Linked DNA regions of Homo sapiens. The protein of the gene in region 3 interacts with the protein of the main gene of each other region in a pairwise test. Each region holds a gene or a part of one and is shown on either strand. Other genes may lie near its edges.

Evidence for each region.
Region 1: the proteins of PIANP (region 3) and TMBIM6 interact in binary tests that used the Homo sapiens proteins (3 or more experiments, as listed by UniProt).
Region 2: the proteins of PIANP (region 3) and DEFB127 interact in binary tests that used the Homo sapiens proteins (3 or more experiments, as listed by UniProt).
Region 4: the proteins of PIANP (region 3) and CMTM7 interact in binary tests that used the Homo sapiens proteins (3 or more experiments, as listed by UniProt).

What each region holds. Positions count from the first base shown.
Region 1 is NC_000012.12:49,758,556-49,765,459, forward strand, and holds the end of TMBIM6 (bax inhibitor 1), read left to right. Parts: intron 1-127; coding exon 128-207; intron 208-665; coding exon 666-766; intron 767-3,148; coding exon 3,149-3,224; intron 3,225-4,317; coding exon 4,318-4,341; 3' UTR 4,342-6,379; downstream 6,380-6,904. UniProt on the Homo sapiens protein: Endoplasmic reticulum (ER)-resident protein that confers cellular protection as an anti-apoptotic protein by limiting multiple stress-inducing pathways surrounding the endoplasmic reticulum and mitochondria.
Region 2 is NC_000020.11:152,440-159,675, reverse strand, and holds DEFB127 (beta-defensin 127 preproprotein), read right to left. Parts: upstream 2,223-7,236; 5' UTR 2,132-2,222; coding exon 2,083-2,131; intron 903-2,082; coding exon 652-902; 3' UTR 513-651; downstream 1-512. UniProt on the Homo sapiens protein: Has antibacterial activity.
Region 3 is NC_000012.12:6,697,808-6,704,955, forward strand, and holds the start of PIANP (PILR alpha-associated neural protein isoform b precursor), read right to left. Parts: upstream 3,009-7,148; 5' UTR 2,807-3,008; intron 2,609-2,806; exon of another isoform or gene 2,328-2,608; intron 298-2,327; 5' UTR 255-297; coding exon 238-254; intron 1-237. UniProt on the Homo sapiens protein: Acts as a ligand for PILRA in neural tissues, where it may be involved in immune regulation.
Region 4 is NC_000003.12:32,443,834-32,450,859, forward strand, and holds part of CMTM7 (CKLF-like MARVEL transmembrane domain-containing protein 7), read left to right. Parts: intron 1-5,620; coding exon 5,621-5,719; intron 5,720-7,026.

The DNA.
Region 1 (6,904 bases), about 43 Mb from region 3:
CTAACTCCTTTGCGACTATTGAGTTGAGATTAACCTTCATTCTGGGGGAAGTTAAGGAATGGCTTTAATGGGATTGCTTTACTTTGCCTTGGCTTCTCTCAAGACAGCTTTTTGCTGTGTCTTATAGGTATCTTGATGTCAGCCCTGAGCTTGTTGCTTTTGTCTTCCCTGGGGAATGTTTTCTTTGGATCCATTTGGCTTTTCCAGGTAAGACTTAGCCTGGAACTTTCCAGCAGCCATTTGCCTCACACTTCTTTCTTTCCTTTTTTTTTTTTTTTTGCACTTCTTTCTGTACTACTTTGGGCAGTGCTCTCTAAGCCTTCCCATTATCCTTCATAGGATGGAGCCTTCTGCCACAAGTGAAAACAGGCTGCACAAGGTTGGGCATTGCTAAGAGAAAATGGTTTGCTCAGACACCATTTGTGTAAGGCCAGTCTGGCAGTGGCTGATTGTTAAAATGATTGAAACTCTTCCAGTGACCAGTGCAGTATTGTGCCTAGGGAAGTAAAGTGGTCTTCACCCTAGGCTGCAGTTCTCGTGAATGGTAATGTTCATAGGGTTCACATTTGATGTACTTTCAAGTGACTATGAGCCAGAAAGTATGGCTGGTTTTTTTTTCTCTGCAACTTCTGCTGTATAGTAACTTCATCTCTTACATTTGTTAGGCAAACCTGTATGTGGGACTGGTGGTCATGTGTGGCTTCGTCCTTTTTGATACTCAACTCATTATTGAAAAGGCCGAACATGGAGATCAAGATTATATCTGGTGAGTGTGGGAACTAGTCTTTAACAAGCATGAAGGTTGAGGCATACCGTTCAGCAGCTGAACTTAGGTTGGCATTGGCTGAACATAGGTGGCCAAGCTTTGGGAGTGTATGTGGTAGGAAACCCACGGTTTTGGAACTGTGTACCATAATCTTCCTCAATTCCTGAAAGATTTCAGATTTTTTAAAAATCTGGGCTAATAGGCCAGGTGTGGTGGCTCACACCTATAATCCTAGCACTTTGGGAGGCTGAGGCCACTGGATCGCTTGAGCTCAGAAGTTTGAGACCAGCCTGGGCAACATGGCGAAATCCCATCTCTACTAAAAATATAAAAAAATTAGCTGGGCATGGTGGCACATGTATATAATCCCAGCTACTCAGGAGGCTAAGGTATAAGAATCATTTGAACCTAGGAGGTGGAGGTTGAAGTGAGCCAAGATTGCACCACTGCACTCCAGCCTGGCAACAGAGCGAGACCCTGTCTCAAAAAAAAAAAAAAAAAAGTGTGGGGGCCGGGCACGGTGGCTCACGCCTGTAATCCCAGCACTTTGGGAGGTCGGGGCAGGCGGATCACGAGGTCAGGAGATCGAAACCATCCTGGCTAACACGGTGAAACCCTGTCTCTACTAAAAATACAAAAAATTAGTCGGGCGTGGTGGCGGGCACCTGTAGTCCCAGCTACTCAGGAGGCGGAGGCAGGAGAATGGTGTGAACCGGGGAGGCGGAGCTTGCAGTGAGCGGAGATTGCACCACTGCACTCCAGCCTGGACGACAGAGCGAGACTCCTTCTCAAAAAAAAAAAAAAAAAAAGTGTTGGGGGGTGGCTATATATTTACATATCCATAGTGGCTACCTCCAAGCAGAAGTGAGGGAAAGAGATCTTTCTCCTTTTCCTATTTATACTTCTGTATTTTTTAAACAATGAGTAGAAGATACACTCTTTTTTTAGAGACAGGGTCTCGCTCTGTTGCCTAGGCAGTAGTGTGGTGCCATGAACACAGCTCGCTGCAGCCTGAATTTACTGTGCTCAAGCAGTACTCCTGCCTCAGCCTCTTGAGTAGCTGGGACAACAGGCACGTGCGACCATGCCAGGCTAATTTATTTTTTGTAGAGATGGGGTCTTACCATATGCCCAGATTGGTCTCAAGCAGTCCTCTTGCCTTGGTTTCCCAAAGTGTTGGGATTACAGGCTTAAGCCACCATGCCCAGCCACTTTTTTTTTTTTTTTTTTTTTTTGAGACAGTTTTGCTTTGTCACCCAGGCTGGAGTGCGGTGGCAACATCTCAGCTCACTGCAACCTCCGCCTCCTGGGTTCAAGCGATTCTTGTGCCTCAGCCTCCCTAGTAGCTGGGATTACAGGCACTCTCCACCACGTCCAGCTAATTTCTGTAATTTTAGTAGAACGAGGTTTTGCCACGTTGCCCCGTGAGGACATGGTGTCGAACTCTTGGCCTCAAGCAATCTGCCTTCCTCAGCCTCCCAAAGTGGTGGGATTACAGACATGGGCCACCATGCCCAGCTCACTTTTTTTTTTTTGAGACGGAGTTTCGCTCTTGTTGCCCAGGCTGGAGTGCAACGGTGTGATCTTGGCTCACCGCAGCCTCCGTCTCCCGGCTTCAGGTGTTTCTCCTGCCTTAACATCCTGAGTAGCTGGGATTACAGGCATGCACCACCATGCCCGGCTAATTTTGTATTTTTAGTAGAGATGGGGTTTCTCCATGTTGGTCAGGCTGGTCTCAAACTCCTGACTCAGGTGATGCCCGCCTCAGCCTTCCAAAGTGCTGGGATTACAGGTGTGAGCCACTGTGCTCGGCACTTTTTTTTTAATGTAGTGATTCTCTCAGTCTCATGACTAATTAGTGGTAGTTAAGGGTTCAGACTTGGACCTCTGCAGAGTTCAGAGCGCTTGAGACAGGGCTTGCTCTGTCACCCAAGCTGCAGTAGGAGAGTGGCACTGTCATGGCTTACTGTAGACTCAAGCTCCCTGGGCTCAGGTGTTCCTCCCATCTCAGCCTCCTCAGTAGCTGGGATTACAGGCACATGCCACAATGCCCTGCTAATTTTTGTAGAGACGGGATTTTGCTATGTTACCCAGGTTGGTCTCGAACTCCTGGGCTCAAGCAGTCCACCTGCCTCAGCCTCCCAAAATGTTGGGATTACAGGCATGAGCCACTGTGCCTGGCCCAGTCTCTTTTCTCTATGCTGCATGACTTCGATGAGTCTAAAGGATCTCAGACACCAGAGTTTTACTTCCTTAGTTGGGGGTAAAGTGTGGGAGAAGCTGGCTCGTGGGGGTAGGGGTGGGGTTTATATTCTGCATCTTTGTGGGCTTGTGGATAAAAAAGTCTGAAGTACAGATCCTAATCTGGTTCTTGCCTTTCAGGCACTGCATTGATCTCTTCTTAGATTTCATTACTGTCTTCAGAAAACTCATGATGATCCTGGCCATGAATGAAAAGGTTAGTTAGCCTACAACCCAAAGATGAGACAATAATGGCTCCTGAGCTTGGCATGTGTGTATACTTCAGATTTGAAAACTTGCTCACACACTGTGTTAGGTCCAGGGTAACTGTAAGGCAGGCCACTGAGTAAGAGGTAAGCCAGAAGTCTTCAGTTGTTAGAAAAAAAGCAGCAAGTGAAAAAAAAATTTTTTTAACTAATTCCTGCGTTTAGTATGAAAGGGAAAAAAGCTTCAGTGGCAGTAAACACAACCTGCTACATGAATAATTTAAAGGCTATATAGTTGTGACTCAGAGAAAGGTATTGTGGAGGACGTTGTAAATTTCAGAAGTAGACTAATTTTATCCATTTGTTAATTTTTTTTTCCAAGGAAGCATTCTATATAGGGCTAATGAGTATCTAACGTAGTTGAGTCAAGCAGTGGGGGAAACAAATGAAATGAGCTTTTCTTTATAGACCTTATGGAGCTTAGAGATAGCATAGTGGTAGCGGGAGTAGTTGACCAGATAGGATTGCTGGCTCTGTCTGGGCTATGCCATGGTTGGACTGAGCACTAGGCAGATGTACAAGTTTCAGAACAAGCAACTGAATTTTCATTCCTTAATACATTGGGCTTCCATCCAAGATTGAATGAAGAATTCTGCTGGACCAAATTATTTCTGAATGTCAGTTTATGCCAGAGTCATGCTCACTTTGCAGGGTGGAGCACTTCTCGCGCCTAATGGTTGGTTGGTGGTCTTGGCCTCTAGTTTCACTCTTTGAGGATAGAGTGCCATCTGCAGCCTTCACTGTTGGGATCTGAGCTGTAGTGGCTGTGAATAGCCTAGAGTGGTCAGGCAGCCCACCTCGGCACTCCTGGGGTGGGGGTGGGGACAGCTGCTTAACCTTTATTCTTGGTCGGTCTGTCGGCAACTTTGGGAACCACCAGTAGGATGTGGTTAAGATTCAGTTCTTGCTGAGCTAAGGAAGCATTTCTCATTTCTTTTTAATTGTCTGGCTCACTTCTAGTCCCTAACTAAATGCTCACTCAAGAGTTTTAGCTTGAATGTCAAATGTCAAAAAATTAATTGGGTGATTTTTCTCCATTTCTAGGATAAGAAGAAAGAGAAGAAATGAAGTGACCATCCAGCCTTTCCCAATTAGACTTCCTCTCCTTCCACCCCTCATTTCCTTTTTGCACACATTACAGGTGGTGTGTTCTGTGATAATGAAAAGCATCAGAAAAGCTTTTGTACTTTGTGGTTTCCTCTATTTTGAATTTTTTGATCAAAAAACTGATTAGCAGAATATAGTTTGGAGTTTGGCTTCATCTTCCTGGGGTTCCCCTCACTCCCTTTTTTGTCAACCCCATCTGTAGCCTCTTCCTCTACTCAGGCAGTCGACCCGCCACGATGAGAAGTGGGACCAGCAGAGGGCGCCAACTTCAGGAGTCCGCTTTCCCACCAGGCTTCATTCACCCAGTGGACCTGAACTGTTTGGTAGAGCCACCCGGCCCTTCCTTCCTCATTGTTGTTTGGTATGCGCACAGTTCCTGTGGGACTGGGCCGTGAGTTTTCCATTGGAAAGAAGTTCAGTGGTCCCATTGTTAACTCAGCCTCAAATCTCAACTGTCAGGCCCTACAAAGAAAATGGAGAGCCTCTTCTGGTGGATGCTTTGCTCCCTCTGAGCTGCCCATGCTGGTCTGGCAAACACACCTTTCTGCTTTGCCTTCACAAAAGTAATGTGTTCCCTTTCCCACCCCTTGCCTGACCCTCAGGGAGTCAGCCTGCTTCCATCCATGGGTGGGAAGACTTCAGCACAAAGGAAAGACTAATTCTTGTCAGGCATTTTTGAAAAGGCTGATTATGTGTATCAAGGTACAGCATCGTAGGGTTCCCCTAAACTTGCCCTGTTTTTGTTTTTTTAGTTTGTTATCCCCTTACTGAGCGGCCTCTACTAGGTGGCTGTGATTAAATGTCCCAAGCAAGGATAGGGAAGGGGAATGGTTGAGCCTCTGGAGATCATTGTAACCAATCCTGCCAGACCTGTTTGGGGCAGTGGGGAGCAAACCTAGATAAGGACCTGTTTGGGGCAGCAGGGAGCAAAATCTCCTTTAACAACCAAGCAGTTCCTCATTCACATCAACAGAGCGAGGCTGTGATAACTTAGGAGGCAGCAATCCTAATAGTCCTTCAGTGCATTTTAGTCTGTCTCCAACTGGACACCAGTAGGTAGTGTCAAGCCAGAGATTCGGGGCAGTAGATAAATGTTCATTTTACTGATGCACTTTAGTTTTTGGTCTGTTACCTGTTTTCCAGAAATTTGTGGCCTTTTAGGCGGGAGTTAGGCGACCAAACCAGTGAGAGCCCCAATCCCTGCAGTTTTGTGGCTTCAAGTGTGGGTGGACAGTCCTAATGGGGATCTCCAGCTCCTTCCTGTGGGCTGCCACAGACAGCTACCCCCAGAAGGGTCAATGTTGGGAGTGGTTGTGGCTCTGAGCTGCTCTACAGAGCTTCAGTGTGAGAGGATCGAGCCATTGAAAGCTCATTACCAGTAGGACATAATTTTTGGCTCTCCCTATTCACAACCAGTGCACAGTTTGACACAGTGGCCTCAGGTTCACAGTGCACCATGTCACTGTGCTATCCTACGAAATCATTTGTTTCTAAGTTGTGTTTATTCCTGGAGTGACATGCCACCCCGAATGGCTCACTTTCACTGAGGATGCTGTCCTCTGATTTAGCTGCTGCCTCCAGCCTCTGGCTTGAGAACTTACTAAAGGCACTTCCTTCCTGTTAAACCCCTGTTAACTCTCCATAAATTTGGTGATTCTCTGCTAGGCCTAAGATTTTGAGTTAACATCTCTTGAAGCCAAACTCCACCTTCTGTGCTTTTTGCTTGGGATAATGGAGTTTTTCTTTAGAAACAGTGCCAAGAATGACAAGATATTAAAAAAAAAAAAGAAAGAAAAAAAAAAAAACACCTACTTTTAAAGAAAATACCTAACAGATTTTTAATATAGTTATCTCTACCACTTTCTTTTCTAGTTTCTTGATTTTCAGCTCAGGCTGCATTCTAACTCATACTGTGAAGACAAAGGTGTTTTTGATTCAGAAATATATGAAATCTGCATAGTCTTAATTTGTAAAAAATAAAGAAAATTCCTTAACCTTTCCTGGTGTTTGTGTTAAATTCAAGGGTACAGCTGGTCATGGAGCTTGTGATACTGCCAGGGTTTGCTACTGGGGGCTGGGAGTGGGACACGATTGAGTTCGTGTCATAAGTATGAACAGAGACAAAGACCTCCCACTCTGTAGCCCCAGCATGCCACAAATGTTGAGAATTTTCTCTGTCAAATATGTAAGCCAGTTTTTTTTCCAGTCCTCTCCACCCCCTGCCACCTTTGCTATATGTTGTTTGTGGTGATATGTGCAGTTGGTTCAGATGTGCAGCCAAGCTTTGGAGTTTGAGGATGCATAATGGAAAAAAGGCAAATGATACCCACTCATTCTGCAAGTATTTTTGTTCACCCACTGCTGCCCGGCTGTATTCTAAGTGCATTAGTTAATAAAGATGTAAAAGTTGGCCAGGCATGGTGGCTTATGCCTGTAATCCCAGCACTTTGGGAGGCCAAGGTGGGCAGATCTCGAGGTCAGGAGTTCAAGACCAGTCTGGCCAACATGGTGAAACCCCATCTCT
Region 2 (7,236 bases), on a different chromosome or scaffold from region 3:
GTTGAGCTCCACAACAGTGGAATCTTATTTATCTCCGTCTTCCCAGTTCACTGCTGGTACACAGGAGCTTAGGAAATCAGACTTCCCCCATAGTTCAACTTTGAGTGCTCTGTTCTTCATCCAAACAAAGTGCATGTATAGTGTCTTGAAATGTTCTGTCTTTTCCAATTTCCTCCCATTCTGTTCACTCAAATTGCCTTCCCTACCAAACCTCATCCATGGAAATCCTACTTATTTACTGCTTTACTATTTACTTATTTACTACAAGACACTGCTTTATTCCTAAACTTACTCATGAATTTCCCCTGAATATTTGCTTCACCTTTCCCTCTCCTAAATTACATGTCAGTGTTTCTGAGTTTCTTATTCCAGACTTCCACACTATAGGACTTTTTTTTTTTAGTGTACTTGTCATATCCCCTTTTCAAGGAGAGGTTCTGAGTTCTTATCAATTCATTACCTAGTATATAATGAGTGTTCAACCCCTGGTTAAAGAACAAAATGAGACAGAAAACTGGCAATGCACTTTATTAGAATATGCTCGAAGGTCATTTTAAGGATCAAGAAACCAAAAGGAAGAAGATGTATATCTCATCACCTTAGTTTATTAGACTAGGTTGAGAAGCAAGTGAAAACGAAATTGTATTTGATTTATGTAGACTGTGTCTTCAGGCTTGGGAAATTTTCTATTATTGTAACATAGTCTTGAAGAGTCAGTGCAAGTGTTGCTGGCTTTGGACGAGGTGGCTTTGTAATTTTTTTACATGCTTCCAGTTCCTTGATATTGAGGCAACAGTATCTCCCATTTTCACATAGTGCCTCAGGCACTTCATTTACTCTGCAGATTTTCCTGCAATGTCCTTGTACATAGTTATTCCAGCACTTCTTAAGTTGTTCGGTTACTATACACAGAAAGGAGCAATAGAACAATATCAGTGTTTGAGACTGAAGGCACGTTGGTTTTGGGGAAGACAGAGGAGGCTTGTAGGAATTAGGGGTATGGGGTATCCACAAGGCAGACCCTCATATATTCTGAAGAGGATTTTCCGACAAGGTCAACCTCAGTGTTTGTATTTAACTGGATCACTTATATTTAGGTCCTGTGAGGTTTTAGGCCTCCCTTAACATCTGATAGACTCTGCCAAGAACATAAGATCTTATCTGAGAAAATAAAGGAGCTGAACCCTTGATTCTAGGCTATGGAACTATGCTCTACATAGGAACCTCAGCAAATCTGCCTGCATCCTGAATGCTCCCAGAGCACTACCTTCTACTGCACCTCCTCTGATGCCCAGAGAACAATGTATTGTTACTATGTGTTTATGTCTGAATCAAACTGTTCTCCTGAGTTCAAACCCACTATCAGGGTCAAGAATGACTTTCATGTTATCCAGTAAGGTAGTAGTCTATTGGGTCTTAGGAATGTAGAGGGTCAGGAATAGGCCATTACTATTCTTATAATAAGGGACACATGTAAGAAATCTGGTTTTGAAAGAGGAAAGGAAACTCTAATTTTTGAGTTCTCAGTATGTGCCAAGCTTCACATAGGTTATATCATTTAATAAAACCCCTGTTAACCAGGTGTCATTATCTCCATAGATGAGGAAACTGAGGCTCCTAGAGTCTTCACTACTTAAAGTTGACAAACTAGTAGATATTGAAGGCATGTTTCTTAAACCTAACTCCAAAATTTGCTTCTTCCTCTATTCATGCACACACACACACACACACACACACACACACATATATATATTTGAGTAAAAGGAAATATAGCTGAGCATCAGAGTAAAAACCATATCCAAAGACATAAAGGTATCCCTAGATATTGGCATCATTCCTTTCTATAACAACACATCTTTCCCAGAAGAAATTATGACCTCTTTTTAGCTCAGTGAGTACTCCTCTTTAAGGATAGTAACATGGAATAAGGCTCCAGAAAGAGGAAATTTCTGATGATGTTGGATAAACTTTAGCCATCTTTGGGGGCTCTATTTCCCTTTAGTGTGGATTATGAAGTTCCCTTTGGCTCCTGAAAATGCTCCATCCCACTGTTGATTTGAGTGAGCTTCTGGTTTGGTTTACCTGTGGGTTTCTGGAACAGCAGAATTGCAATGATCATGAAGAGCCCCATGGCCAGGCTTTCCAGAAGAGGTGCAGCCAAAGCTTTTGGTCCAGTGAACTGCACACTATGCTACCTTCCTCAGAGACTTAGATTCTTATGCACTGAACCAGAACAGATGGGATGATATGAAGTGTGTCCTTAAGCTTCTGAACTGTGAGCTTTGCATCATGCAGGCAGACACAGGAAATTTCAGGCCACCCACTTTACCCCCACATGGAATAGAGATACAGCATGTTCCATCCCATCGCACCAAATGCCGCTGTGTAGGCTGTAGACTGCTGGGAAGAATCTGTGATTTTCCTGCTTTGACTCTCTGCGCAGCCGGACCAAGATCGAAATGTACTCACCTCCAAGAATGAATGTGGCAGTATAAACCAGGACATAAATCTGAAACTCTAACAATAAGAATTTCTAGTAGGTTTCTTGCACATTTCGAAAGAAGGTATGATGTAGTTGGGTCTGATCTGAGGTCACCTGATTTTTTATAAAAGCACCAAGAACATACACTGGGGAAAGGATACCCTCTTCAATAAATCATGCTGGAGAAACTGGATTTCCATGTGCAGAAGAATATATATTATGTATATATATATGTACACACATATATACATATATATGCACACAATGGAATACTATACATACATAACACACAATGGAATATATATATATATATATACACACACACACACAATGGAATACTATTCACCCATAAAAATAATGAAATTCTGTCCTTTGCAACAACATGGATAGCCTGGAGGACATTATGTTATGTGAAATGTCAGGCACAGAAAGATTACCACATGTTCCTATTTATATATGGGAGCTAAAAAAGTTGAGCACATGGAAGTAGAGAGTAGTGTTGCAGATATTAATATTAGAGGCTGGTAATGATTAGGGAGAGGGGAGGATGGAGAGAGATTGGCTAATGGATGCAAAATTATAGATAGGAGGAATGACTTCTGGTGTTGTAGCACTGTAAGGTGAATATGGTTAACTACAATTTATTGTATACTTTTAAAAGGCTAGAAGAGAGGATTTTGAATGTTCCCAATACAAATGATAAATGTTTGAGGTGACGGATATGCTAATTACCCTGGTTTGATCATTACACATTATATGCATGTATTGAAATATCACTTTGTATCCTATAAATAAGTACAATTATGTGTCAACTAAAAATAAAAGGAAAAATGGCTAAAATGGCCAATGTTATGTCATATATTTTACCACAATTAGAAGAAAAAGATGCATGAGGGTATTTTTTTTCTACCAGTTGTACCTTGTCTTTGAAAATATTAAAATGTTGCCACAAGGAATCGATGTTTACCTAGATCATTCTTTGATCATTGATTGCAGTTTTCAAAAAATTTCAACCCTGTTAACCACTGAGATGCATTAAATAAATAAGCCAGTTGGCTTAGAGATGAGCCCTATGGCCATTATTCAGGTCACGTAGTGGTTTTACACAAGAATATGTTTAAACAGAGAGATGTTGACATATAAGAAATCCTTTTTAGAGGCAAATGTAAATTTAAGAGCAGTTACCTCAGAGGTCTCAAGGGTCACCTCCCTTTACTTTTGCCACCAGCTTTTACATGGTTTAAGTCCTAGTCAAGGGATTGGTTTTATTATTTATAGTCTTCCTGTGAATGCAAACTTTCCTTATAGGTGACTTGGTGGTGGAGCATCAAATAAAGACCCTAAGTCTGAGCAGTCAGGAGAAATACAAAAAGCCTTCCTATTAAAGTTGTATTTCTGAAGCTGGATGTTAAATTAGTAATAATAAATATAAGGATAGGAATGGGTCCTAAGAGCAAGGACAAATTTTTAATAAAACAAATAAAAATAAAATTATAATATTCATATTAGCAGAAGAACATATGATCCATCCAACAGAAACTAAAAAAAATGAGGAATAGATAAGTCACAACTGGAGGGCAGAAAAAAGTCCTAATAGATCAGTAGTTATAATACATTCACATGGCTTAAACTCACTGATTAGATGACAGAGATTCATTATTGGATTAAAAAAAGATTTCAGCAATATTAGACAATAAGACACATATATAGTAGACTGTTATTAATAGAATATAGTAGAATAGATATATTGAACAATGTATCTGGTGAAAATAACCAAAAAAGTTGGGTAAATGTAAAAAGGAAATTACTGCATTGAGAAACCGTCAAAAATGAAAGGAATCTGCACAGGCCAAAAACTAAGATTGCAAACCCTGAAAGATAAGTTGAACATTATTTTGATGGCTATGTGAGATGTATAAAGCTAAGATCTAGTCCTAGGGAAGACATATAATTGATACCCTTATATAAACCTGAGATTCAAAGGCAACAATCTCAGCCTAAGGAAGAATGAAATCTCTCTCTCTGACACGAGTGTATACATACACACACACACAGATTAATCTGTATTAGATTGTATTTTGTCAGCATTAACCTTGGCTCTGGATGGAGAAGGTAAATATTAACCCTATGAACTGTAGCCACAAATTCTCATGGGTTTCAACCTAAGTTCAAGCTATTTATATGGATTAAAAAAATCAAGTAAATAATTTAATTATAAGAAATCTCAGTTGTTAATTCGCTAGTTGTTTAGTGGAAGCAGATGTGAATCTTTTCTTCATATATCCAAGGCACCCAAGAATTCCTAAATATGAAATTCCAATTAAAATGAGAATCTTACAGGTTAAAGTTATAAAAACAGAATGAAGTATGGTCCCATGAGTCTGAATCATTTGAAGGTCCAGACATTAGAAAGAGAACAAAACACAACAATGACAATAACAAATGGCTAACCCTTGTATAACACTTTCTATGTGCTGGCACTCCTGTCGGTGTCTTACATACATAAACTCATTTACCTTTACAGCAACACTTTGAGGTAGATATTATTATCTCCATTCTACAAATGAGAAACTCAAAGGCACAGAAAACATAAGAAACTTGCTCAAAATATTATAGAGCACATATCAAGTGCTTTACAACCACATGACCAGTGGCTAACATATTGTATAGTACAGATTTAGAACATTTCCATCTTTTTAGTTACTTCTATTGGAGAGCACTTCTCTAGAGGCTGAAAGTTCACTACTGTACTATGCGTCTAATACTAGATTATCAGATCCTTCTTAGATTCATTTAACCATCAACAAATCAAAATACAGAATTATTCATTATGAAAAGATCTCCCTCTCTTATTGTCTTACTGGCATATTTCCCTCCCTCTCCTGACTATTCATAACCCCTGGAAAGCACTAATTTGTTCTACATTTCATAATTTTTAGACAATGTTATGTGAATATAGTCACACACTATGTGACCCTTTGTCTTTTTTCATCACTCAGCATAATGCTCTTATAATCTATATAAGCTGTTGCATGTATCAATAATTCATTTTTTTTTTTTTTTTTACTGCTGAGAAGTATTCCATTGTATGGATGTACCACCCTATGTTAGTCATTCACCTGTTGAATGACGTTTTGGTTGTTTACTCTTTTGGGCTATTATAAATAACACTACCATTGATATTCCTGCCCGGGAGTTGTGGAGAAAAACACTTTCATTTCCTTGGCATAAACACCAAGGAGTGTATTCCATTGTTGTTGGATGAAATGTTTTATAAATGTCTATTAGATCCTGTTGCTTTGTGGTATTTTTAAATTCTTCTACACCCTTGTGGATTTTATGTCTAGTTGTCCTATCTATCAACTGTTGAAGTTGATATTGTAATTTTTTTTTTTTTTTTTTTTTTGAGACGGGGTCTCGCTCTGTCACCCAGGCTGGAGTGCACAGCTCACGGCAGCCTCGATGTCCTGGGCTCAAGCCTTCCATGTCAGCCTCCTGAGTAGCTGGGACAACAGGCGTGGGCCACCACACCTTAGTTTTTGTATCTTTTATAGAGAGGGGGGTCTCACTATGTTGCCTCAGGTGATCTCAAACTCCCAAGCTCAAGTGATTTGCCTGCCTCAGCCTCCCAAAGTGCTGGAATTACAGGGATGAGTCACCACGCCTGGCCTGATATTGTAAATTTATTTCTCCTCTTAGTTTTATCAGTTTTTGCTTCAGGTATTTTGAAACTCTGGTTTTCAGTTTGTGGACGATCAGGGCTGCCATGTCTTCTTGGTTGATTGACCCTTTTGGCATTATATAATTTCCCTCTCTGTCCTTGATAATTTGTTTTGCTCTGAAGTCTGCTTTAACTGATGTTAATATAGCCATTCCTACTTTCTTATGATTAATATTTGTATGGGGTATCTTTTTGATACATGTTAGGGATTAAGTTACCATTTTATATTTTGTTTTCTATTTGTTCCTTAGAATTCCACTATAATTTAGCTATAATTTCTTATTGTATTTATTTATTTTTTTTAGTGGTTGCTGTACCTAACTTATCACAGTCTACGGTGTCAAAGTTTTACAAGTTTGAATGAAGTATAAAAACTTACCTCACTTTAAATTTCTTTGCCTTACCCAGCTTATAATGTTTAAGTACTTCCTCTACATCTATTTAGAACCACATCAGACAATGTTACAATTTTTGCTTCAATCTACCAAACATGATTTCAAAACTCTTTAATAAAAAGATAGTCTCACTTTGGGAGGCCGAGGCAGCAGATTGCTTGAGTCTAAGAGTTCGAGACCAGCCTGGGCAACACAGTGAAACCCTGTCTCTACAAAAAAATATAAAAATTAGCCGGCTCCTGTGGTCCCAGCTACTCACTGGGCTCAGGAGGGAAGATCCTTTGATCCCAGGAGGTCGAGGCTGCAGTGAGCTGAGATTGTACCACTGCACTCCTGTCCGGGCGACAGAGCCAGACACTATCTCAAGAAAAGAAAGCATAAAAAAAAAATAAAGCAAAAAAAAAAGCATAGTCTATTATATTCACCTCCCATTTTACCCATTCTATTGACTTCGACTTCTTCCTTTCTGAAGTTCCAAGCCCCCGGTTATCATTTTGGTTTAGAGAACTTTCTTTGACTATATTTTTAGGATAGGGCTGCTAGTGACAAATTCCCTTAATAGTTTCTTGTTTGAGAATGTTTTTCTTTCCCTGTTTATTCCTAGAGAACTTTTTTTTTTTTTTTTTTGCTAGATATAG
Region 3 (7,148 bases):
GAGCGTGGCTGAGACACAGGCCTACTGTGGGCCTATGTGAGGGAGGGACAGGTTCACACCAGAAACCTCCAGGTTTCCCTGTGAAAGCAGGTGGGCCTTGGGAAGACTCGCCTCATTTCCCATCTTCCAAAGGAGGATGGCCCTCAGGATGGGAAGGCTCTGGATGGGTCTAGGAAGGAAGGAGTCATGGCCCCAGGGAATGTGGTCTCCAGGCTCCCTCTGCTGGGCCAAACTTACCACATCCTGGACTCCATGTCTGAGGTCTTCCTCAGCTGTGACCCAGATTTTCAGCCTTTACTGGGAGAAAAAGGGGGCCGTCACACCCCAGCCCTGCCCTGTGTACTTCCCCAGCTAATTCATCCACCAATTCTACCCGCATCTGCCCTCCCAGGCCACCCAGCTGCCAGCTATGCGGCTGCACCCAGGATTCACTGGTTGTTAGCATCCTTTTGGGGGAAAAACTCCAGCGTGGTTGCCTGACCAGACTCCAGCCCCATCTACAACTTCTCAGGTCCCTGTTACCTCTCCACCCCAGGGTCTACTCTGGCTTCTCTGATTTCCCTTCTTCTCACTTCCTCTGCCCACAGCTCCAGGCTTTTCTTGGATCTTAATTTAGAGCCAAGAACCTTGTGATTCCTTGAGCACCTACCGCTAGGGAGGGAGTCTGAGGGTAGGGGGAGGGATGGGGAAGTCAATCTGAGCAAGCCAGTGAGTGTGTGTACGTGCAGGGGGGCCCTTCCAGCCCTCCCAGCCCTCCCACCCCTCTGGCAGTGCCAGGCATTTGTCTTATGATTAGCCCCAGGAGTCTGCATCTTCAGGAGAAAGGAATGAAGAGCTGGAGGGATGGAAGGAAAGAGACAGAAAGAGAGAGGTGAGTGGGAGAAAAACTACAGAATATAATTTTTGCTCTTAATGTTTAATCATCCAAGTGCATAGGTGCCCTCTGAAGGGAGGTGGAGTCAGGAAGAAACCACCCCCTCAAATGTGGCTCTCCTGGGTAAAGAATCCTGGGAAAATCGGGATGGTTGGTTTTGAAAGAGAAAGGGTGTGTTCTCAGAGCTGAGGGTGGTGGATCCAGGAGGGGCAGGCTCCCCAGAGGGAGTGAAGATAGGATACCCGTTTCCTGTGGATTCTGGGTCTAAATCTGCCCAATGGGCCAGACGCAGTGGCTCACGCCTGTAATCCTAGCACTTTGGGAAGCCAAGGCGGGTGGATCACCTGAGATCAGGAGTTCGAGACTAGCTTGGCCAACATAGTGAAACCCCGTGTCTACTAAAAATACAAAAATTAGCCGGGGGTAGTGGTGGGCGCCTGCAATCCCAGCTATTCAGAGGGCTGAGGCAGAAGAATCCCTTGAACCTGGGAGGCGGAGGTTGCAGTGAGCTGAGATCACACCATTGCACTCCAGTCTGGGCAACAAGAGCGAGACTCCGACTCAAAAAATAAAATAAATAAATCTGCCCATTGAATCTTCCCAGAGAACAACAAGGGAACAAGATGGGAAAGTCACGGGAAGGGCGTGGGGAAGCAGGCAGTGGGAGAGATGGGAAGGGGTGAAGGGCTGGGAGATGGAAGGCTGGTTAAGAGTGAGAGAGGAGAAATGTGAAGAGGAAGCTGGCCTGGAGTGCAGGGTGAGAGAGAGCAGGCAGTCCTGAAAAAGAGAGAACTGGGAAGAGAGGAGGAGAGTGGGTACAGAAGACTCGAACTGTGGAGGATGCCGAAGGGAGGAAAGGATGAGAGAAAAGGTCAGGGAGGGGAAACGGAGAGGATGAAGGGGTCACAGGTGCAGGGGAAGAAGGGGCAGGAGGAGAAGGAGAGAGCGGTCCAGGCAGGACAGCCAGAGGAGTGGAGAGTAAGGGGATGGGAGAAAAGGGGGGAAAGCCCAGGATGGGGAGAAAGGAAGTGGGGAAGGAGAGAACATAAATGCTTAAGGAAAAATGACACGAGGAACGGGCTGGGAAGCAGAGGCGGGAGCAGCAAAGATGGAGGAGTTCGGAATTGCTCCCCCAAATGTAAAGGGATGTGGAGATACCGAAAGACATAGGGATGGGGGCATGGTGGGAAGAAGGGAGAGAGAGGGGAAAGGAAGAAAGCTAGAGGGAGGGAGCGAGGCGTGTAGAGCGAACCAGTGAAGCGGAGAAGGGCTCCCAGGGCGCATCTGTGGCCAGCTGACTCTAGGACTATCGCCCCTCCGCCTGTGCATCCCCACCCCCAGCCAGCGCCAACCCAGTCCCTGGGCCCCGCACAGCTTCAGCCGCCCCCTCCAGGAAGCCCGCAGTCCCCGGGCTGGCGCGCCACCCCCACCCCTCTCCCAGCTTCTCACCGACCTGTTGTGCGCAGGAGACGAGCTGGGGGTGGGGCAGGAGCCTCGGGGTGCGGGAGCCGGGCCCCAGCCCCAGCGTGGCCCCCATCCCACCCATCCCGCAGGCCCGCACTCCCCGCACAGGGCTGGAGAGCGGCGAGAGTGGGGGGAGACGAGGAAAAGGAGGTCGGCGAAGGGACCCCGAGGCAGGGAGTGCCGAGAGCGGACTGGGGACCCGAAGCAGGAGACTGCGCGGAGCCGCCCGCCGAGCCGAGGCGGGATGGAGGCAGCCGCGGGGACGGGGACGGCTGCGCCAGGGAGGGCGGGAGCGAGCCAGGACCGCGGAGGGATGGAGAGCCCTTCGGGGAAGGGGCGCTGGGAGGCTGGAGGCCTTGTCCCGGGCGAGGGACCGCGTCGGGAGGGGCAGGAGGCGCAGGGCGCGGAGCCGGGAAGGGCAGGGCCGGGCTCCCCGCGGGTGGGGGCGTGGGGGTCCCTCTCACTCACCTGCATGCTTGGCGCGGCGGCGCGACGACTGCGGGCGCTCGGGACTGAGCGGGGCTGGGGGGTCGCAGGAGCGGGCGGGGTGCGGGGCATGGTGGGGAGGTTTGGCCCGCGGCAGGGCGCTGGAGCGGGTGGGGGGCGGGCGCCTGGGGCGCGGGGCGGCGGCGGTGGGAGATGCTCGCCTCGGCTCGGCTCGGCTCGGCTCGGCTGGGCTCGGCGCGGCGGCTGGGACCGCTCCGTCTCCGTCTCCGCCTCCCCCCCGCGCCGGAGGCCACGCACGGTTTAACCCTCCTGCTGCCGCGCTGCAGGAGTCAAGCCAGGCTATGTCCCAGGTGGAGGGCTGAAGAGGCTGGCAGGGTCCAGCGACCGTCCGCTTCCCTGGGTTCTGATGGCAGTCTCCCCACCTCCTTCACCCCAACTCCAGGGACACCCATGGTCGCCTCAGTCAGTTTCTGAGATTCTGAGTCACTCAATGCTCTGCATTCCCAACTTTGTTCTTTTGTATTGTGTTTTGTAGAGATGAGGTCTCGCTGTGTTGCCCAGCCCGGTCTCGAACGCCTGGGCTCAAGCGATCCTTCCCGCTCAGCTTCCCGGAGTGCTGGGATTACAGGCGTGAGTCACCACTGCCTGTCCCCCAACTTGGTTTTGCCCGCTGTAGAAAGTGCCTGAGGTCAAGGCTGGGGGCAAGGGGTGGAGGAAAGGACTGGGGAGGAAGGACCTTGCACCATCTTTGGATTATCCCCACAGCTTGATCCCCTATTTCACTCTGGCCCTGCTACCATGCATTAAGTGGATCACGTCGAAATTCCTGGGCTTTTCCAGCACTGGAATACCTAGACTCCGTGCTGTGACTTACAAGACCCTATATAACCTGGCTCTTAGGTGGCTCTCTGATTGCCTTTCCTAAAGATTTCTATGCTTCAGCCACATGGGACCTGGTGGATTTCCTGGTTGGAGACAGGTTTAACCTGCCTCAGGGCCTTTGCACTTGCTGTTCCCTCAGTAATACATTTCCCTGGCTTTTCACAATGACTTACTGTTTTCATTCCAGTCTCACTTAGATCCAACGCCTTCTGGGAGGCCTTCCCTAATGTCTCTATCAAAAGTAGCCTCTCCTGCCCCTTCTCCCACCACCTGGATCCCATCCCTCTCTACCACACTACGCTGTTTTTCCTCAGGGCACTTCCAGGACACCACACTCTCCTCATTTCCCTCCAACCTCACTGACTGTTCTTAGTCTTCCTCGGGTGACCTCTAAATGTTGGAGCCTCCTAGGGCTTAGTCCTTGGCCATTCTCTCTTTCCACATTCTCTGTCCAGTGATCTCATCCGGTCCCAGGGCTTAAATACTATGTAAATGTCAGTGAGTCCTAAATTTATATCCAGAGCGCCAGACTCATTTATCCGACAGCCTACTTGACATCTCCACTTGGATGTCTAATAGCCATGCAAAGCTAACTTGACTAAAATAGATGTCTTGAATTCCCCCACCCCCAATCCATTTTTCTCCCAGTGATCCCCATCCTGAGGCTTCACAACTACTAGTTGTTCAGGCTAAAAATCTAGGAAACATCCCTCCCTTCCCCTTTTTTTCACTGATTCTCTCCCTGTATCTAATTCACCAACAAGTCCTGTGGGCTCTGCGTCCAAAATATATCCCGAATTCATCTCCTTCTATCTTTATTGCTATAGTCTTGGTCTAAGCCATCATGTCTCATCCAGATTATCATAATAGCTTCCTCACTGGTCCCTGCTTCTGCCCTTGTCTTTACAAACTAGTTTTTCCTATATTGATAATATTTTAAAAATCAAAAGCATGTCATGCTCTTCTCTGCTTAAAATATTCGAGTGGTTTTTCATTACACTTGGAATAAATCTGAACTCCTTGTAAGGAGAAGCCCACCAGCCTGTACCCACCTCATACACAGTGCTCCTGCTGGATCAGACTACTTGCTGTTCTGTAACATCAGAAGTCATTCTCTTAGCATCCCTGCACTTTTTTTTTTTCTCGAGACAGTGTGTCTCTCTGTTGCCCAGGCTGGAGTGCAATGGCACGATCTCAGTTTACTGCAACCTCCGCCTCCCAGGGTCAAGCAATTCTCCTGCCTCAGCTTCCCAAGTAGCTAGCGTGTGCATGCAGGGGGGCCCTTCCAGCCTTCCCAGCCCTCCCACCCCTCTGGCAGTGCCCACTAGTGCCCTGCTAATTTTTGTATTTTTTGTAGAGACAGGGTTTCACCATGTTGGCCAGGCTAGTCTTGAACTCCTGACCTCAAATGATCCACCAGCCTTGGCCTCACGAAGTTCTGAGATTACAGGCGTGAGCCACTGCGCCCGGCCCCTCCACTTTTGATTCCCTCTTCCTGGAATGTTTTGCCACCCCTCTCCCCATCTTCACCTGGTTGGCTCCTTCATCCCTGCTCAAAATCTAAAGTGGCCCCCACTCTGTTTCCTCATTATGTTTCATTGTCTTTCCAACTCATCACTTTCTATTTGTTTATTTATTTATTGAGATGGAGTTTTGCTCTCGCAGCCCAGGCTGGAGTGCGATGGTGCAATCTTGGCTCACCGCAACCTCTGCCTCCTGGGTTCAAGCGATTCTCCTGCCTCAGCCTCCCAAATAGCTGGGATTACAGGTGCACACCACCATGCCTGGCTAATTTTTGTAATTTTAGTGGAGACGGGGTTTCACCATGTTGGCCAGGCTGGTCTCGAACTCCTGACCTCAGGTGATCCTCCCACCTCGGCCTCCCAAAGTGCTGGGATTACAGGCGTGAGCCGCCACGCCTGGCCCGACTCATCACTTTCTGAAATGATCATATATGTGTTTACTATTTACTGTCTGCTCTCTCCTGCCCCCCTATACATTAGAGAGCCAAGATCTTATTTGTCTTGTTTACCGTGTATCCCTACTCCTACTGCAGTGCCTTGGAATGTAGTAGATGCTCAACATGTACCACTTAATGAACTTCTTCTGGGACCCCTGCCCACTCTGAACTCTTTTAATTCTCTCCTCTGCTGTCCTCCAGCCATTCCTCTCTAGCTGCCTGCCCCCTACTGATCTCTGCCCTACGCCAAATGCTTCAGGTTGAGCCCTTGCTCATGTCCACACCCCTTCAGATCCTCCTCCTTCATTTGCTGCATTGTGACCCGTTGTCAGCCTGGCGCTCCTGCCTCGTGAAAGGAAGGAAGCCTGCTGTTCTGACGAGCATCTGCAGCAGCTGCCCTCTTGCTTGCGTGTCCCTGACAGCCCTTCATTTGAGGTCAGAACAGCAGCGAGTGAGCCGTCCTCCTAGTGTCTCCCAGTGGTGGGGGAAAGACAAGGCACACTGGATGTGAACCCGGCCAAGGGGCCATGTGAGTCAGGTGCGCAACTCCTGCCACCTCCTGGGCCCCTTAAGCCCCAGAGCATCCTGAGGATATGCTCCAGGTGAACTCATGTCACTGGCATGGACCAAGTTTATCAAGTGAATATTCATGTTCAGTGTAAGTGCCTTTGACACTGAGGACCTTGGGTCATTAATTATTTCTATTATTCTTGATTCATTCATTCTTTCCACATTTTTTTTTTTTTTGAAACAGGGTCTCACTCTGTTGCCCAGGCTGGAGTGTAGTGGCACAATCATGGCTCACTGCAGCCTTGACCTCCTGGCTCAAGCAATCCTCCCACCTCAGCCCCCAAGTATCTGGGACTACATGTGTGTGCCACCATGCCAGGCTAATTTGTGGTGGTGGTTGTTTTTTTTTGTTTTTTGTTTTTGTTTTTTTTTTTTGGCAGAGATGAGATTTTGCCACGTTGTCCAGGCTGGTCATACAAATATGGTCATTTAAATGGTGTGACACGCCAGGTACCGTGCCATGGCTGGGGATACAGCGGAGAGCAAGAATGAAGTCATCACTGTCTTGGTGGAGCTTACAGTCTGGTAGGGAGACAGTGCAGTGATAAATGTGACTTCAGATGAATTTGAGGACCTACCCACACTCTACAGTCTCTATACAGTCTCTATACATCCTTGTCCTGTTTCTGGCTCTGCTGGTATCTTCATCACTATCTCTGGGCTCATTTTTAATTAATTTATTTATTTTCAGAGACGGGGTTTCGCCGTGTTGGCCAGGCTGGTCTCGAACTCTTGAGCTCAAGCAATCCTCCCACCTTGGCTTCCCAAAGTGTTGGAATTACAGGCGTGAGCCACCGTGACTGGGCTCATTTAGGGTGAATTTCTGTTTTCTGTCCTCAAATATCCAATATTCTTCTTCTGAACCCTTCTCTCTCTCAGCTGATGATCTTGCTTGCTGCTTTTCTGAGAAAATGGAAACAAGCAGGAGAAAACTTCCCCACTCCCACCAGC
Region 4 (7,026 bases), on a different chromosome or scaffold from region 3:
ATGTGCTTTTGGCCATTTGTATATTTTCTTTGAAGAAATGTCTATTCGAGTCCTTTGCCTATTTTTTAATTAGGTTATTTGTCTTTTCATTATTGAGTTGTGAGAATTCCTTCTATAGTCTGGATAAAAGTCCCTTATCAGCTATATGACTTGAAAATATTTTCTCCCATTCTGATGTTTTTCACTTTTTTGATGGTGTCCTTTAAAGCACAAGTTTTTAATTTTGATAAATTTAGTTTATTTATTTTTTTTCTTTTTTAGCTCACGCTTTTCTTACATATAAGAAGCCATTTCCAAATTCAGATTGTGAAAATTTACTTCTATGTTTTCTTCCAAGAGTTTTATAGTTTTAGTTTATACATTTAGGTATTTGATCCATTTTGAGTTAATGTTTTTTGCATAGGGTGTGAGGTAAGGGTTCAATTTCATTCTATTGCATGTAGATATCCAATTATCCCAGCATCATATGTTGAAAAGACTATTCTTTCCCCCATTGAATGGCATTGGCACCCTTGTTGAAATCAGTTGACCATTAAATACATGGATTTAGTTCTGGACTCTCAATTCTATTCCATTGATCTATGTGTCTGTCGTTATGCCATTATCACACTATTTTGATTACTGTAGCCTTGTAGTAAGTTGTAAAACTAGCAAATATGCAGCCTCCCAATTATTCTTCTTTTTTAGGATTGATTTGGATCGTTACAATTCCATGTGAATTTTAGAATCGGGTTTTCAATTTCTACAAAAATCAGCTGGGATTATAATAGGAATTATGTTGAATCCATAGATCAATTTGGAGAATATTGCTATCCTAATAATATTGTCTTATCCATGAACATGGGAAGTTTTTCCATTTTTTTAGATAATCTGTTATTTCTTTCAATGTTTTGTAGTTTTCAGAGTAAAAGTGTTTTTTGTTTGTTGCTTTGTTTGAAACAGGTTCTTGCTCTGTTACCCAGGCTGGAGTGCAGTGGCAAGATCATAGCTCCCTGCATCCTCAAACTCCTGGGCTCAAGCAATCCTCTTGCCTCAGCCTCCCAAAATGCTGGGACTACAGGCATGAGCCACTGTGCCTGGCCTGAACTTTTTAAATTAAATTTGTGTCTGAGCATTTTATTCTTTTTGATGCTATTTTAAATCAATTTTTTTCTTAATTTTATTTCCAGATTGTTCATTGCAAGTGCATAGGAATCCAATTACTTTTTGCATATTGATTTGTGTCCTCAACTGTGCTGAACTACTTAGTAGTTCTAATATATTTTTCTAATATATTTTTAGTGGATTCCATAGGATATTCTGTAAACATGATCTGCAAATAGAGATATTTTTACTTCTTCCTTTATAATCTGGATGCCATTTATTTCATTGTCTTGCCTTATTGCAAGAAATTAGTTGACTAAATTAGACAAATATTGAATAGAAATGGCAGAGCAGCCATCATTATCTTTTTCCTCATGTTAGGAGGAAAGCATTCCTTCTTTCATCATTAAATATAACATTGGGTGTGAGTGTTTTGTAGAAGCCCTTTATCAAGTTGAAGTTCCCTTCTAGCATTACTTTGTTGAGTGTTTTTATCATAAAAGAGTATTAGATTTTGTCAAATGCTTTTTCCGTATCTACTGAGGTGATGAGTTTTTCTCCCATTATTAGTATGGTGTCTTACATTGTTTTTTGTTTTTTTTGTTTTGTTTTTTTAGACAGGATCTTGGTCTATCATCCAGGCTGGAGTGCAGTGGTATAATTATGGCTCACTGCAGCCTTTATTTCTCAGGCTCAAGCGATCCTCCCACCTCAGCCTCTTGAGTAGCTGGGACCACAAGTGTGCACCACCATGCCTGGCTAATTTTTTTTTTGTTTTTGGTAGAGATAAGGTCTCCCTATGTTGCCCAGGCTGGTCTTGAACTCTTGGGCTCAAGTGATCCTCCTTCCTCGGCCTCTGAAAGTGTGGCGATTACAGGCATGAGCCCCCACACCTGGCCTGGTTTGTTTGTATATGTTGGGCCAACCTTGCATTCCTGGGGTAAATTCCATTTGGCCATAATGTATAACCCATTTTATATGCTGGTATATTCAGTTTGCTAATATTTTGTTGAGGATTTTTTGCATCTGTATTTAAAAGAGATATTGGTCTGTAGTTCTCTTTTTTTCTGATGTCCATCTGGTTCTGGTATCAAGTTAATACTGGCCTCACAGAATAATTTAGGAAATATTCCCTCCTTTTTTATCTTTTGAAAGAGTTTGTGCAGAATTGGTATTAATTATTCCTTAACTATTTGGTAGAATTTAGCAGTGACACTGGGTCTCAGCTTTTCTTGTGGGTAATTTTTTTTATTGTTAATTCGAACTCTAATTTTACCATCTTTTCAGATTGCATCATTTATTCTGGAGTCAATTTTAGTAGTATATATGTCTAGGAATTTGTCCATTTCATCTAAGTCATTGAATTTATTGGCATGCAATTGTTTATTGTATTTCTTACATTCTTTTTATTTCTGTAAGTGCAGTAGTAATGTTTCCTCTTTCGTTTGCATCTTCTCTCTCTCTTTCTCTTTGATCAATCTAGCTGAAGATTTGTCAATCTTGTTGATCTTTTCAAGAACCAGCTTTTGGTTTCATTGATTTTTTTATTGTTTTCCTATTATCTTAATAAATGTTGCTTTAATCTTTATTTTTTTTCTTTCCTCTTCTTGCCTTAGGTTTAGTTTGATCTTCTTTTCCTAGTGTCTTAATGTATAATATAGTTTGGATATCTGTCCCCTCCAAATCTCATGTTAAAATTTGATTCCCAGTGTTGGAGGTGGGGCCTAGTGGGAGGTGTTTGGATCATGGGGGCAGATCCCTTGTGAATGACTTGGTGCTGTTCTAGTGGTAATAAGTGAGTTCTTGCTCTGTTAGTTCCCATGAGAACTGATTATTAAAGAGAGGCTGGCACCTTCCTCCCCTCTCTCTTGCTTCCTTCCTCTTGGCTGTGTGATGCCTGCTCACCTTCACCTTTGCTTCAGAAAGTAGAAGCTCCCTGAAGCCCTCACCAGAAGCAGATACAGGTGCCATGCTTCTTGTACAGCCTACAGAACCATGAGGCAAATAAACCTCTTTTCTTTATTTGTTGCCCAGCCTTGGGTATTCCTTTATTAAAACAACGCAAAACAGACTAAGATGATGTGGAAGGTCATCATCTAATTTGAGACCTTCCTTCTCCTTTAATATTGGCATTTACAGCTATAAATCTCCCTCTGATAACTGTTTTACTTGTATTCCATAATTTTGGTATATTGTGTCTTCATTTTCATACATCTCCAGGTATTTTCTGATTTCTCTTATGATTTTTTTTCTTTGATCCATTCATTATTTAGGAATATGTTGTTTAATCTCTATATATTTCCCTGATTTCCCTCTGCTCTTGATTTCTAATTTGATTCCATTGTGTTCAGAGAACATATTTTGTAGTCCTTCTTACCTTTATTGAAGTTTGTTTTATGGTCTGATATATCGTCTATCCTGGACAATGTTCTGTGTACATCTGAGAAGAATGTACTTTTATACATTGTATATTTGTATATTATACTTTTGCTGGATAGAGTTTTTATAGAGGATTTTTAGGTCTAGTCATTTTATGGTGTTGTTTGAATCTTCTATTTCCTTGTTGACCTTCTACCTGGTTGTTCTATACATTGCTGAAAGTAGGGATATTGAATTCTCCAACTATTATTTTTGAATTGTCTGTTTTTCTCCTTCATTTTTCTCATTTTTCACTTCATGTGTTTTGGCTCTTTTATTAGGTGCATATACGTTTATAATTGTTATATCTTACTTACGGATTCAGCTTTTCATTGTTATAAAATGTCCCTCTTTATTTCTAGTAACTTTTTTTTGTGTTCGATTCTATTTTGTCTGATGCAGTGTAGACACCCTGGCTTTCTTTTGGTTGTTGTTTGCGTGCCATTTCCTTATCTTTGAATATAAAGTCTCTCTCCCATAGACAGCACATACTGTAGTTATTTCTCGTTTTGCTTTGGTTTTTTAATCCAATCTGACCACCTCTGCATCTTGATTAGATTGTTTAATTGTTCACACTTAACACTATTACCCACTGTTATTTTGAGAGAAATTTCTTTTGTGTTTCTAAGTTCTAAGGCCCCTTTCAAAGTTATGGCATTTTTTTCTGCTTCTTTTGAGAACAAATTCCTCTGGGGCTTACCTGATGCAGATACTGAACAAGCAAAGGAGAGAACAAAAGCTCAGGGACAAGCACAAGAGTGGGCTGCATGAGGAGTGAAAGTTGGAAGGACAGACTCAGCCACACATTTTTGGCTGAGATACTATTTAAGTACTTCCGGTTAGGATTCTCTCAAGTTGGTTTTCTCTGCCCCATGTCATCCTCCTCTGTCTTAATAGTTGAGAATCTTGGAGGTGGGGAACTTGCAGTTACTCATCTGTTCTTCAGTTAAAATCTCTGTGATCTATCTTGTGATATTCCTTTCTAGTCACTAAGGGAGAAACCAGGGTCTTTGATTTTACATAGCTTTGAGAGGAGCTACAGCTTTAAATTGGAATGCTTTTCCAAAATTTAATAGCTGCCTGCCCTAAGGGGCAGAACTTCATGAAGGAATGATTTCTAGATTCTCATTGAAGACAACTGAAAATGGATGCACCCTGGATTCAGAGCAAGCACTGGAAGTGGCCCCCAGCCTCAGTTCTTCTCGGATCTGATGTTTAATGGGGAAGAGAAAGGGTGAGATGGAAGCTTTCCCTCGCCACTGAAAGGCCCATCTCATCCAGGGCCTGCAAGGATGCTGATTAATCATGATGAGTGAGTGGGGTGGAAATGCATGGCCCATGGGCCAAGGCGAGAAGCAAAGGTGGAACCAGTCCTGCCAGTGGATTCATTGGCAGAGCTTGGCCGGGAGGGCACTCTTCTGGAGAAAAGAGAAGAGGGAATGACAGGAAAAAAAAAAAAAAAGGCAGGAAGGCTCAGGAGTGAGAAAGCCAGCTGCCACCACACATCCACAGGCACTTCACAGAAGTGCCACTGACCTCATTCTAGAGTCTGAGTCTGACGGGACCCTGGGAATGAATACCTCTCAAGTCCACACTTGGGGCCATTCACAGAGTGGGCTGACACTCCCATCAGTCACACAAGACCAGCACATTGTTAGCCCAGAACTTTCTCCGAAGCAGAAGAGAAAGGCAAATATCTCTTTAAGGTACTTTGCTTCTCCGAGCTGGAGCTTTGTTTAAACTCTCCAGCCGGGAAGTTGCAAGAAGCTCGTTTGCTTTTTAGTAGCTTTAGCCAGAGGTTAAGGCACTGTCCACAGATTGCTCTCAGGAGTAGAGGAGTCCTTAGTGGCTATCTCTGCTCACACCAGAAGCTTCCTTTCTCTCTGTCCTCTTCCCTTCCTGCCTGCCCGGCATCACTTCTGTCTTGCTTGGCCTCTTCCTGGTCAGCCCGCATGTTGGCTGCCTGCGAGCGGCTCTGCTCATCCCATTTGCGTGTTGCAAGGGAGAAGAGGAAGCGTCACTCTCTCCCTTTCTTTTCATGTCTTCTGATGCCCAGTTGCTCTTCCCGGACCAGAAATGGACGGCCCTACCCACTTATTTGCTTTGTTTCTGCCCCCAGGAACTTCTGCACTATTTAATCGGTACCCTGCTCCTCCTCATCGCCTCCATTGTGGCAGCTTCCAAGAGTTACAACCAGAGCGGACTGGTAGCCGGAGCGGTGAGGATGTTTTGGGGAGCCTTTAGGAATGAATTCTTATTTAAAATGCTCATTTTCTTCCTGATGGGGGAAGAGAAGGGCTTGGTTTCTGGGGCATTCCCTTCATAGAATCAATACCTACCTTGATCCAGCCATCAGCTCTCTCCAAAGAGCCTTAAGCAGAGGCGTACAGTCCCAGAAGGTGGATTGTCAGGGCTGCCAGCAAATTCATAGACCCCAGCAGCCCAGGCCTCTCTCTCTTACAGGCACTACTGAAATCAGGGGGCCAGGCGGGTTTTAATTCACACACCCACTCTGATCATTTGCTCGTTGGCTGCCTCAGCACTATGCAGAGACAGATGCTGGAGCCTCTTTTGGGCCCAGTGGGAAATGTACTGTGATCAATTAGAGATACATGCCATGAGCCTGAGCTTTGCCATTCCTGATTTTTAACAGTATTCAGGCCAGGAAATAATACTCCTGTATCTTTCAGAGGCAAAAATTGATCCATCTGATAGCCATAAATAGAAGTAGATGGAAATATACAAAAATACAGTCCTGTGAGATATATACATACATATATATGTATATACATACAGATGTATATGCTATTTTTTTAAAGATTCATAGATTCCTGTCATCTGATTTCTGATTTAGCTAACTATTTATAGTTCAGTGGCCTGTGGGCCAACACTGATTTGCTTCACTGATGAGCAGACAAGATTTTAAAAATGAGTTTTGAGAAAAGCTCTCTCAAGCCAGATGTGGTAGCTAGCATGCACCTGTAGTCCCAGGCACTCGGCAGGAATGCTTGTGCCCAGGAGTTCGGTCTGGCCTGGGCAACGTACTGAGACCCTGTGTCTTAAAAAAAGAAAAAGAGAAAAAGAAAAGCTCTCTCTGTATGTGACATTCATTGTCTTTCACTTACGTATATTACCAAAATTTTCCAGACTTTGGCCTGGGAGTGGGTTGGCTCCTGGAATTCCACTGAGGGATGGAGTCTCTCCTCTGAAGGTCAGCATGGGGGCAGAAGGTCACTGTAGAGGGTGGCCAAACCTCCCAACACTGATGCTCCACATGGCCCTCCCACAGCCCACCATCACACCTCTCTGCCCCCTCTCTCTGCTGTCTCTGAAGAGAGGGATGGTTGCCCCCTGAAGCTTAACACCTGCCCAGCTACAGTGCAGGGTACTGGAAGAGGCACACAGGAGACCTGTGCCCACTGTGTTTCCGGGCCCACTTGAGGAGATTCCCACTGTGTTTAGTAATTCAGGTTGCACATAACTGTTTAGCCCTGGAATCTCTATAGCTAACATTCATCATATGCT